2 separate regions of the Homo sapiens genome follow, and region 2 is linked to region 1. The links come from fine-mapping of genetic effects on gene expression. Tissue or cell type: whole blood. Region 1 holds a variant in brackets; the other region holds the start of a gene. All regions are shown on one strand. Distances are between the middles of the regions.

The links.
Region 2: it holds the start of NSUN7, and the variant in region 1 is fine-mapped to the expression of NSUN7 in whole blood (TOPMed, PIP 0.98).

What each region holds. Positions count from the first base shown.
Region 1 is chr4:40,808,953-40,813,346 of GRCh38, reverse strand. It overlaps NSUN7 (NOP2/Sun RNA methyltransferase family member 7), which reads right to left. Exons shown (of 12, transcript NM_024677.6): 12 at 2,163-4,394. APBB2 (amyloid beta precursor protein binding family B member 2) reads left to right here. Exons shown (of 18, transcript NM_004307.2): 18 at 1-3,320. Among named protein-coding and RNA genes, the nearest start is that of NSUN7, 61 kb to the right of the region's middle. The variant A/G (reference allele first, on the strand shown) is at 2,695.
Region 2 is chr4:40,747,460-40,751,853 of GRCh38, reverse strand. NSUN7 (NOP2/Sun RNA methyltransferase family member 7) reads right to left here and starts at 1,899. Exons shown (of 12, transcript NM_024677.6): 1 at 1,554-1,899; 2 at 863-1,251. The coding sequence starts at 1,160.

The sequences.
Region 1 (4,394 bases):
TATTTTTAATTAACCTGTTAAATACAGCTTAAAATATTTTTATTTTATTTATTCTATTTTTACTGAAATATACTGCATTATTGTGTTAATGTATTATCTTTCCTGGATATTATCTCCCAGTGTATCCAGATCTAAGTAATCTCAGTGAACTATACATTGCCTAAAAAGTGGTTTTGTAATGATTTGTAGTCACATTTCTATTGGGATATGTAGAAGAAAAGGCAAAATGCTTAAAGTTCCTTTTATTTTTTAAAAGCAGCTAGATAGACACAGACTTGCCACCTCATACATCTGCTCCTTGGCAACATCAAGGGGAACGACTAGCCAACATGCCTATGGCTAAAAACTTTCCTTTGCAGACTAAAGCACTGCTTGGTGCTTCGTTTTTCTACCCTTCACAACATGTGTGATTTCATCTAAGAGATATATACATGTACACATGCCCTTTGTTTCCACCTGGATACAAGATCACTCATAGCTAATTAGGACCATTGTTTTTTGTTCATCTGTCTTGTTGCATGAAGGGACATTAGACCCATTTCCATTAAAATAAGTTCTTGGTGATAAACTGTGGCACTGCTACTTCTTTTTAAATCCACTTTATGATTTCAAGATGGACACTTGTAAGATGACTCGACACAAGGCCATTGCCTGGAAGCCCCAGAGCTTTCCTCTGTTTGTATGGCCCGTTCATGTCCCAGGCATTGCAACACAAACTCCTCAAGATTTCACCACAACATGACAAGCATTTTCCTAACTGATATTAGCACAATTTAACTAATAAGCCCCTTCGCTCTCTAGTTGGCCAGGCTTAACCTAATACACATCTAACGTGTGTGCCACACGGCCAGTAGAAAGTTTAACTTCAGCTTCAGGGCAAAGATACCCACTCACACCGTGTCAACGCAAGCAGTAGTTCCTGGCCTCCAGAGCAGCTTACTTCCCCTGAAAGAACGCTTTGTTTTCCTTTATGCCCTTTTCCTGTTGACCACTTTTACACATTTAAATGTAATTTGTTGTGAGAATAAATTTAGCTGCATAAAACGTTCGGCTCATTTATCTGACATCTTAGTCACATATACAAGGAATAGAAATAGAAACTCGGTGTCTCTAGTTATTTTTAAATTATTCTTACCTCAGACTTCTTAGAAATCACTTTAGTAATGGAGCATTTTGCTTTGATTAGTTACTACATATTTCTGCCTGGTAAGAACTAGGAAGTAACTTCAAATTTTGAGTAATCACCCTGTACTTATTTGGTGATCAGGAAGGCCAGCTGGCCTTCCGGACATAGAAGCCTATTTAGTCACCAACTCGAGTCTTTTGTAAGCGGTCTTGCTAGGATTGTGATATTTTAGCACGAAGAAGTTTATCACTTCCTTTAAGAACCTGACATCAAAGAATAAAGAATAGAGGTGTACACACACTAAATCCAAAATGAAAGGTAACTAGAGAAATCAGTTGAATCTGGTTTAGCTTAACTGTTAGGCGCAGGAAGGCAGATAAACAGAATTTAAAGTATGTCCCCGCTTTTTGTTCATCTTGCACTTCCACAGTGGTTTCTCTCTAGTCAGTAACAAAATTTCATTATGGTTTCAGGCATTATATGGTGGTAAATAATTTCAGATTAAAAATGTGTTTGCTATTGGAGTATCTGAATACTAGTAATTTCATTATTTAGAATTTTGCAGCACTTTTATCTCAAGAAGAAGTCCAAGAATGTAAAATGCCAAATGAAACATGTCAGTGGAATCAATATTCTCCTTCATTAGAATTCCCTCATATTGCTTTTTTTTTTTTTCTTCAGACAGAGGAGTCTTACTCTGGAGTGCAGTGGTGTAATTTCAGCTCACCACAACCTCCACCTCCCAAGTTCAAGCAATTCTCGCCTCAGCCTCCTGAGTAGCTGGGATTACAGGCATGCACCGCCACGCCTGGCCAATTTGTATATTTTTAGTAGAGACAGGGTTTCGCCACGTTGGCCAGGCTGGTCTCGAACTCCTGACCTCAGGTGATCCGCCCGCCCCAACCTCCCAAAGTATGTGAGCCACCACGTCCGGCCTCATATTGCTTTTATCCAAAATTCTTTTCCCTTTTCACTCTACCAAAGTATTTAAATAATCCTGTCCTTCATAGAAGATTCTCAAAGAAGAAAACTGCAGTGTAATTAATGAATGGTTTAATTCAGAATCTTCATATACTTCTAAAGAGAAAAATAATTTAGTGCCAAATGCATGTTAGGAGATAATCAATGTAAGTGGCAACAAATTGTGACTTCACATGCTACTGTAGAGATCAGAAAATTATCCTAAACTATTCCATAACAATGAGACAACATCACAGAAAATACACTTGAAAATAAAAATCTCAAGACCAGCTACTTCTGGACAATGGAATACTTTTCAGTCTGGTATGGTGGAGGGCCCGAAAAGGATAAGGGATTCTTATGATACACAATGGGATTCTTTACTGAACAATATGTTAAATTAAGCTGCACCGCCTTCCTTGAGGCATGGACTACCCTAACCAACCAGATAGAAATCTGGGTGGGATAAGAGGATGAGCCACACGCTATAATTTTAGGGCAAGGAGATAGTGTTTGATTTTCAAAATCAGCAAAATAAGCTGAGCACTTTATATCTTTCTGTACAAGAGTGATAACATGAAGAATTCTTCTTCAGGGATTTAAAATAC[A/G]ATAAGCCTGGTTCAACTATAAAAAGTCTTGTTTCCTTTCTTCATTGACACTTTTTTTTTTTTTTTTTTTTTTTTGAGGCAAGGTCTCACTCTGCTTCCCAGGCTGGAGTGCAGTGGGGCAATATTGGCTCACTGCAACCTGCACCTCCTGGACTCAAGAGATCCTCGTACCTCAGCCTCCTAAGTAGCTGGGACTACAGGCGTGTCCCACCACACCCAGCTAATTTTTGTATTTTTTGTAGAGATGGGGTTTTGGGGTTTCGCCATGTTGTCCAGGCTCGTCTGGAACTCCGGTGCTCAAGTGGCGTGCCCACCTCAGCCTCCCAAACTGCTGAGATTACAGATGTGAGCCACTGCACCCAGCCCACTGACACGTTTTACTGATAAATGTAAATCTAAGCTAAAATAAAAATAATGTATTACCGCTATAATACAATTCACCATTCTCTTTTCTCACTTCAAGTAAGAAAGTAAAAATAGAATATCAGAGCTGAAGTAGACCTAAGTATTCATCTTGAAGAAGATAATATTCTAAAAATCATGCCACCTGAATTGAGCATTTAGGAATTTATGTAACATTTCTATACAACTGAATTGCAAAAATAAAACTTTAAATTCAAACTTTATGAATATGTCTATGAATGTTTTTAAATAATAAGATATATAGTTGTATCTTAATTCTATTTAATGACAATTTCTGTTGCCATGATGAAAAATCAGTAGACCCAGAAATGATAATCATACCAATTTTTGGTAGGCAATTGAGAATACATTCAAGATGAATCGACATTTAATATAATTAATTAACATAGTGCTACAATATATTTAATTGTGCCTCAGAAATGATTTACCAAAGTTTGATTCCTGTGTGCTATTTGAAATGACTTGTAGATTTTGTTGTATCCCCTGATCTTAGAATCAGAAATTTGTGGGTTTCTTCAACAATAGGTATCGCTTGCATTCAACAGTTTTGCCTCTTCTTCAGAATTATTAATATTTAGATGGAAATTTGCTCACAGTCTTTTGTAACAGTGCTTGACATAGAGGAAGGGAGAGATGATTGTGTCCAGTCTGCTCAGGATCCTGGAAGCTCCCCCAGTGAGAGACACCTCACTGTAAAAGGAACTCTGAGCTACACACACCTGGCACTTGGGAACTTCCTGCGCTTCCTACTTAAACTCAACTTCAGTCACGTTACAAAAACTCATGTTCATTCCCTGTTCAAAGAACAGCTTGATATTTAAGAAAAAATCACCCTTGATCGTGACTGAGAAAGTCACGACTACAACCGCATGGATGCTGAAGAGCGGTCAGCTGGCGGGAGAGGCCAGGATCGTTTGCCTGTTTGGCTTTCTAATGAGCTACCTGCTGAAGGGAGGCAGTGTTTCCTTCCCTGCAGGGGAAACTTGGCAGCTTTAAGTCCAGCCTGAAAGTTCACAGGAGTGAGATAAGTTCTGACCGCTGATACTGAGTCTCTAACTGGATCCTCTCAGAGCAGCAGTGATTGGCTGAAGTCTCTGAATTCTGCTTTGCTGACTCCTACATTATTGTTTCTCACTTGTCTGAATTCTCTGAAAGTAATATCACACTTAGAAGATCCCTAGGTGACCAAAAGAATGAATATCTTGTGTAGAGATGTAGAATCTTCAGAGAAATACTAGACTTTGAAAAAAAATCAACTGCTCTTTGGCCCCTATAAA
Region 2 (4,394 bases), 61 kb after region 1:
GGGCTAATTTTTAAATTTTTTTTTGTAGAGAGGAGATCTCACTATATGCCCAGGCTGGTCTTTAACGCCTGAGCTCAATCAATCCTCCCACCTTGGCTTCGAAAAGTGCTGGGATTACAGGCCTGAGCAACCACCCTTGGCCTCAGATTGATAACTAACCATCCTTGAGTCTCAAACCCTGAAAGCAAATTAGAAAGGGAAGTTCTACTAAAGTTTGGCTCCTCCCATTAAAGCTAGTGGCTATGAATGGGATAGTCTTAATTGGGGTTGGTGTAATTTTGATATTCATTTTTTAAATTTTGCACCTTTTCTTTTTATTCCGTCTCTGTTCCTCTCCCCATCCTCCCTCACTGGTTTTATATTTGTGAAAGCTCATAAACTAAAATACCAAAAAAGGTAAACACAGGGAATGGAAAGAAATACACAGGGAGGCCAGGCGTGGTGGCTCACTGCCTGTAATCCCAGCACTTTGGGAAGCTGAAGAGGGAGGATTCCTTGAGGTCCAGAGTTTGAGACCAGCCCAGACAATAAAGCGAGACCCCTAAGTCTACGAGGGAAAAAAAAATACAGGGAGAGGGAAATGATCATTGGAATAAATTGTTTCCTTGTTGAATGTAATGACCGCGCACTACACCGATCTAAGGACAAACACAGTGCACGGGGAAATCTGCAATCCTGGGCTGGAAGAGCTAGTTTCATGGGAACCCTAATTCCTTGACACTTGCAATTAACCAAAGATATGCACATGCCTAAAACCAAAACCTGGTGTGAATGAGGGGAAGGGAGGAGGAGGGCTGCATTCCCCAAATTCTCTCGCTATTATTTTCTTTTAGTGTTGATCTTCCAGACTGGCACAACTCACATTTCAGGGCACTGAAAGCCAGCTCATAAGACAAACGCTGAAAGGACTGATCCTCAGACTCGGACAAGGACCGCAGGGGTTCATTCCCATACTTGATTAAGACTTTCTGTGCCGACTTTTCGATTCGAATACCCTGAAAAATGTTGGCTGCCATGACATAAACGGAGTCCGGATAGCCCGTTTTTTCGGGCACACCAGCTGAGCTTTTCCCACCGGACAGAGGCAGGGAAGTGAGTTGGGAGATGATCTCGGGATCTTCTTCGTTCGAAAACTCCAGTTCGCCCGTGGAATTCAGCATGTCTGCCCCTCGCCTGTCGTGAGTCCTTCACCCTGGGGTTAGAATTCCGATGTTCCAGGAAACGGCTTTCCTCGCATCTGCAGCATGGTCTCTGTGAAGAGAGAAGGTGATTGCAGTAAATCACTCTTTCTGCAGCACCCCTGTGGGTGGCCCCCTTCGTTGTGGCCTTAAAGACTAAGAGGGAGCATTTCCCGTCCCATCTGAGTGTCCCAGACTTCGAGCCTGGGACGCTCAAAAAAAAAAAAAAAAGCGAGGAGGGGTGCAGCGGCGGAGGGAGAAGAGCCCCAAGGAGACCGACGGCTTCCCTCAAGCCAGTCTGGGGGCAGAGCTGCCCCCGGAGCCCCGTCCGCGTCCCCACAGCCCAGTCACCGGCTCCCCCGACTCCTCCCTTACCCCGAGGGCGGATGGTTCCCGGGGCTTCGGGGACGAAGACGCGGAGGGCGGCGTCGGTCACAGGCCCTTGGGAGCCCCGGGACTGCGGGGCGACGGCTGCTGCCCGCGAAGGCCGTTTGGTTCAAATGCAGCCACTCCCACCGGCAGGATTCGGGGCAGGGGGGTCGCAGCCTCTGGCGCCCGGTTCGCTCCGGTGTCGTGAAGTGGTGGGCGCCTCGGGGCCTCGCCTGGCCTCGCGCGTGAGGCCTTCGCGGACGTGGCGGCGAAGAGGGGTGAGCGCGGTGCCCGGGGTCTGGCTGGCTCAGGCCGAGGAAAGCTCAGCCTCCCGAGTCTCCGGCAGTCGACTGCTCCCGGACCGGGTCTTCATGGCAACCGCGAGCGGAGGTGGGGCAGGGGGCGCGGCGCGAGGGCCGTTCCCGCGGGATTTGGCGGGTGCTACCTGTTGCCGGGAGAGTCGCTCTTCCCCCAGCGCGCGGAGACACCTGTTTCAGCCCCTCCGAGCCAGAGGCCTCTTGCACAGTTCCTGGACCTCACCGGGCCTGAGTGCGTGCCCTTGGCTTTGTTTATAAACATTTGGGGATATTTTTGAGGTAGTCTGACGTAGTTCCGTGGTTTTAACTCACAAGTTCCTGAAGTCCCTGTTAAAACTACACATTCTTTAAAATATTTTTAAAATATAGTAATAATTTTTTTTTTGAGACATGGTCTCGCTCTGTCGCCCAGGCTGGAGTGCAGTGGCGCAATCTCGGTTCACTGCAGCCTCCTCCTCCCGGGTTCACGTGATTCTCATGCCTCAGCCTCCCGAGTAGCTGGGACTACAGGCGCCCGCCACCACACCCTGCTAATTTTTGTATTTTTAGTAGAGACAGGGTTTCACCGTGTTGATCAAGTTAGTCTCGAACTCCTGACGTCAAGTGATCTGCCGGCCTTGGCCTCCCAACGTGCTGGGATTACATGCGTGAGCCACTGCGCCGTCTGTAATAATTTTTTTTAATAACAGAGACAGGGTTCCCATTATGTTGCCCAGGGTGGTCTCGAATTCCTGGGCTCAAGGAGTCCTCCCTCCTCGGCCTCCCAAAGTGCTGGGATTTCAGGCGTGAACCACCGCCTCCAGCTAAAAAAAAATCCTTGGAACCCATCCTAGAGATTTGAGTTGCTAAGACCCAGTAATTTGCATTTTTATCAGGTAACTGGCGATTCTGATGCAATCAGCCCAAAGACCACAGTTTGAAAAACTCTGGTATAGTTGAAAGACAACTGGTCCTAATTCCACCTCTGCCTTTCCTCCTTAGGGATTTGCCCTTCCTTCTTTAGGCTAAGGCCATTTCCATTTCCAGCCAGTGGTTAGTAGGATGAAGGGGAAAGAGAGGGCAGCCCATATTTTTCAATGACCTGAAAGGTGCACATATCACTTTGGCTCACATTTTATTGGTCAGAACTCAGTCATATACCCAGCAACCAAGAGGCTGGTAAATGTGTCCAGCTAAAAATAAGGGAACTATTACTGTAGAAGAAGGAGAGAATGGATAATGGGGAAAAAATTAGCAGTACAGAACTCTAACCCTGACCCCTTCTCTCAGAAATCCACCCACTTTCATTATCCCCGGAATACGTTAAACATTCCGTAACATTTTATGTATACATGCATTCATTCGTTCGTTTAACAAGTATATATTAAATTCTTGCTGTGTCCCTGGCATTGTGTTCAGCCCTACAAGTAAAATAATGAATGTATAGAAATGATCAGACACCTGACCGGGCGCGGTGGCTCACGCCTGTAACCCCAGCACTTTGGGAGGTCGAGGCGGGCGGATCACGAGGTCAGGAGATCGAGACCATCCTGGCTAACACGGTGAAACCCCGTCTCTACTAAAAATACAAAAAAATTAGCCGGGCGTGGTGGCGGGCGCCTGTAGTCCCAGCTACTCAGGAGGCTGAGGCCAGAGAATGGCATGAACCCGAGAGGCGGAGGTTGCAGTGAGCCGAAATTGGGCCACTGCACTGCAGCCTGGGTGACAGAGCCAGACTCCGTCTCAAAAAAAAAAGAAATGATCAAAGACCTTGCCCTCAAGAAATTAAAGATGGATATATTTGTATTTTGTCACCTTTTCATTTTTGTTATAAAGATTCGTGTACATACCTGCATTACCCCCCTTCTGCCATCTTTCTATCCACACAACACACACACTCTAAAATAGTCTTGTTTTATCTTTATCTTTTCATTTTTATTATATATCTTTTTTATTCCCAGATGCTAGCAAAATATCACTCTCTTTCACATACAGACATTCACAGAAGATTACAAATATGGAAGGTGTCTTAGAGGTCATGATATATTTTATCATGCATCACCCAGTACACAGTGATGTGAGGCAATAGCTAGCTATAAACTTTGAAATATTGTCATTCAAAATATAATTTGAAGAGTTTATTTTCTTTAATAATAGTTCAATGTAAGTAACAGTTTACTATATTGAAAACAAGGTTTAACGAGTCTCTATCCCCAAGGTAGAGCTTAGGCAAAGAGTTGTGGGGTTAGCAAATTCATGGTTACTATTTACTTTAATCATGTATATAATCCTGCCTCCTTACTTCTCACTCCTGGTTTATAGCCTCATTGTGGACTTAATGTATTTGAGGGGAGGGTCAGAGGAGAGCATATTAAATTTCAGTGAACACTGTAAAAAAGTAACCATAGAGACAGGCATATGAGTTCAATTGTTGTGAAAGCAGGATAGTAAAAAAAAAAAATGTAGTTTTTGTTTAAGTTACACTCTGTAATATGACCAGAGCATTAAATCAGACATGAGGAGAAAATCAAAATGTACCTGAGGCTTTCTG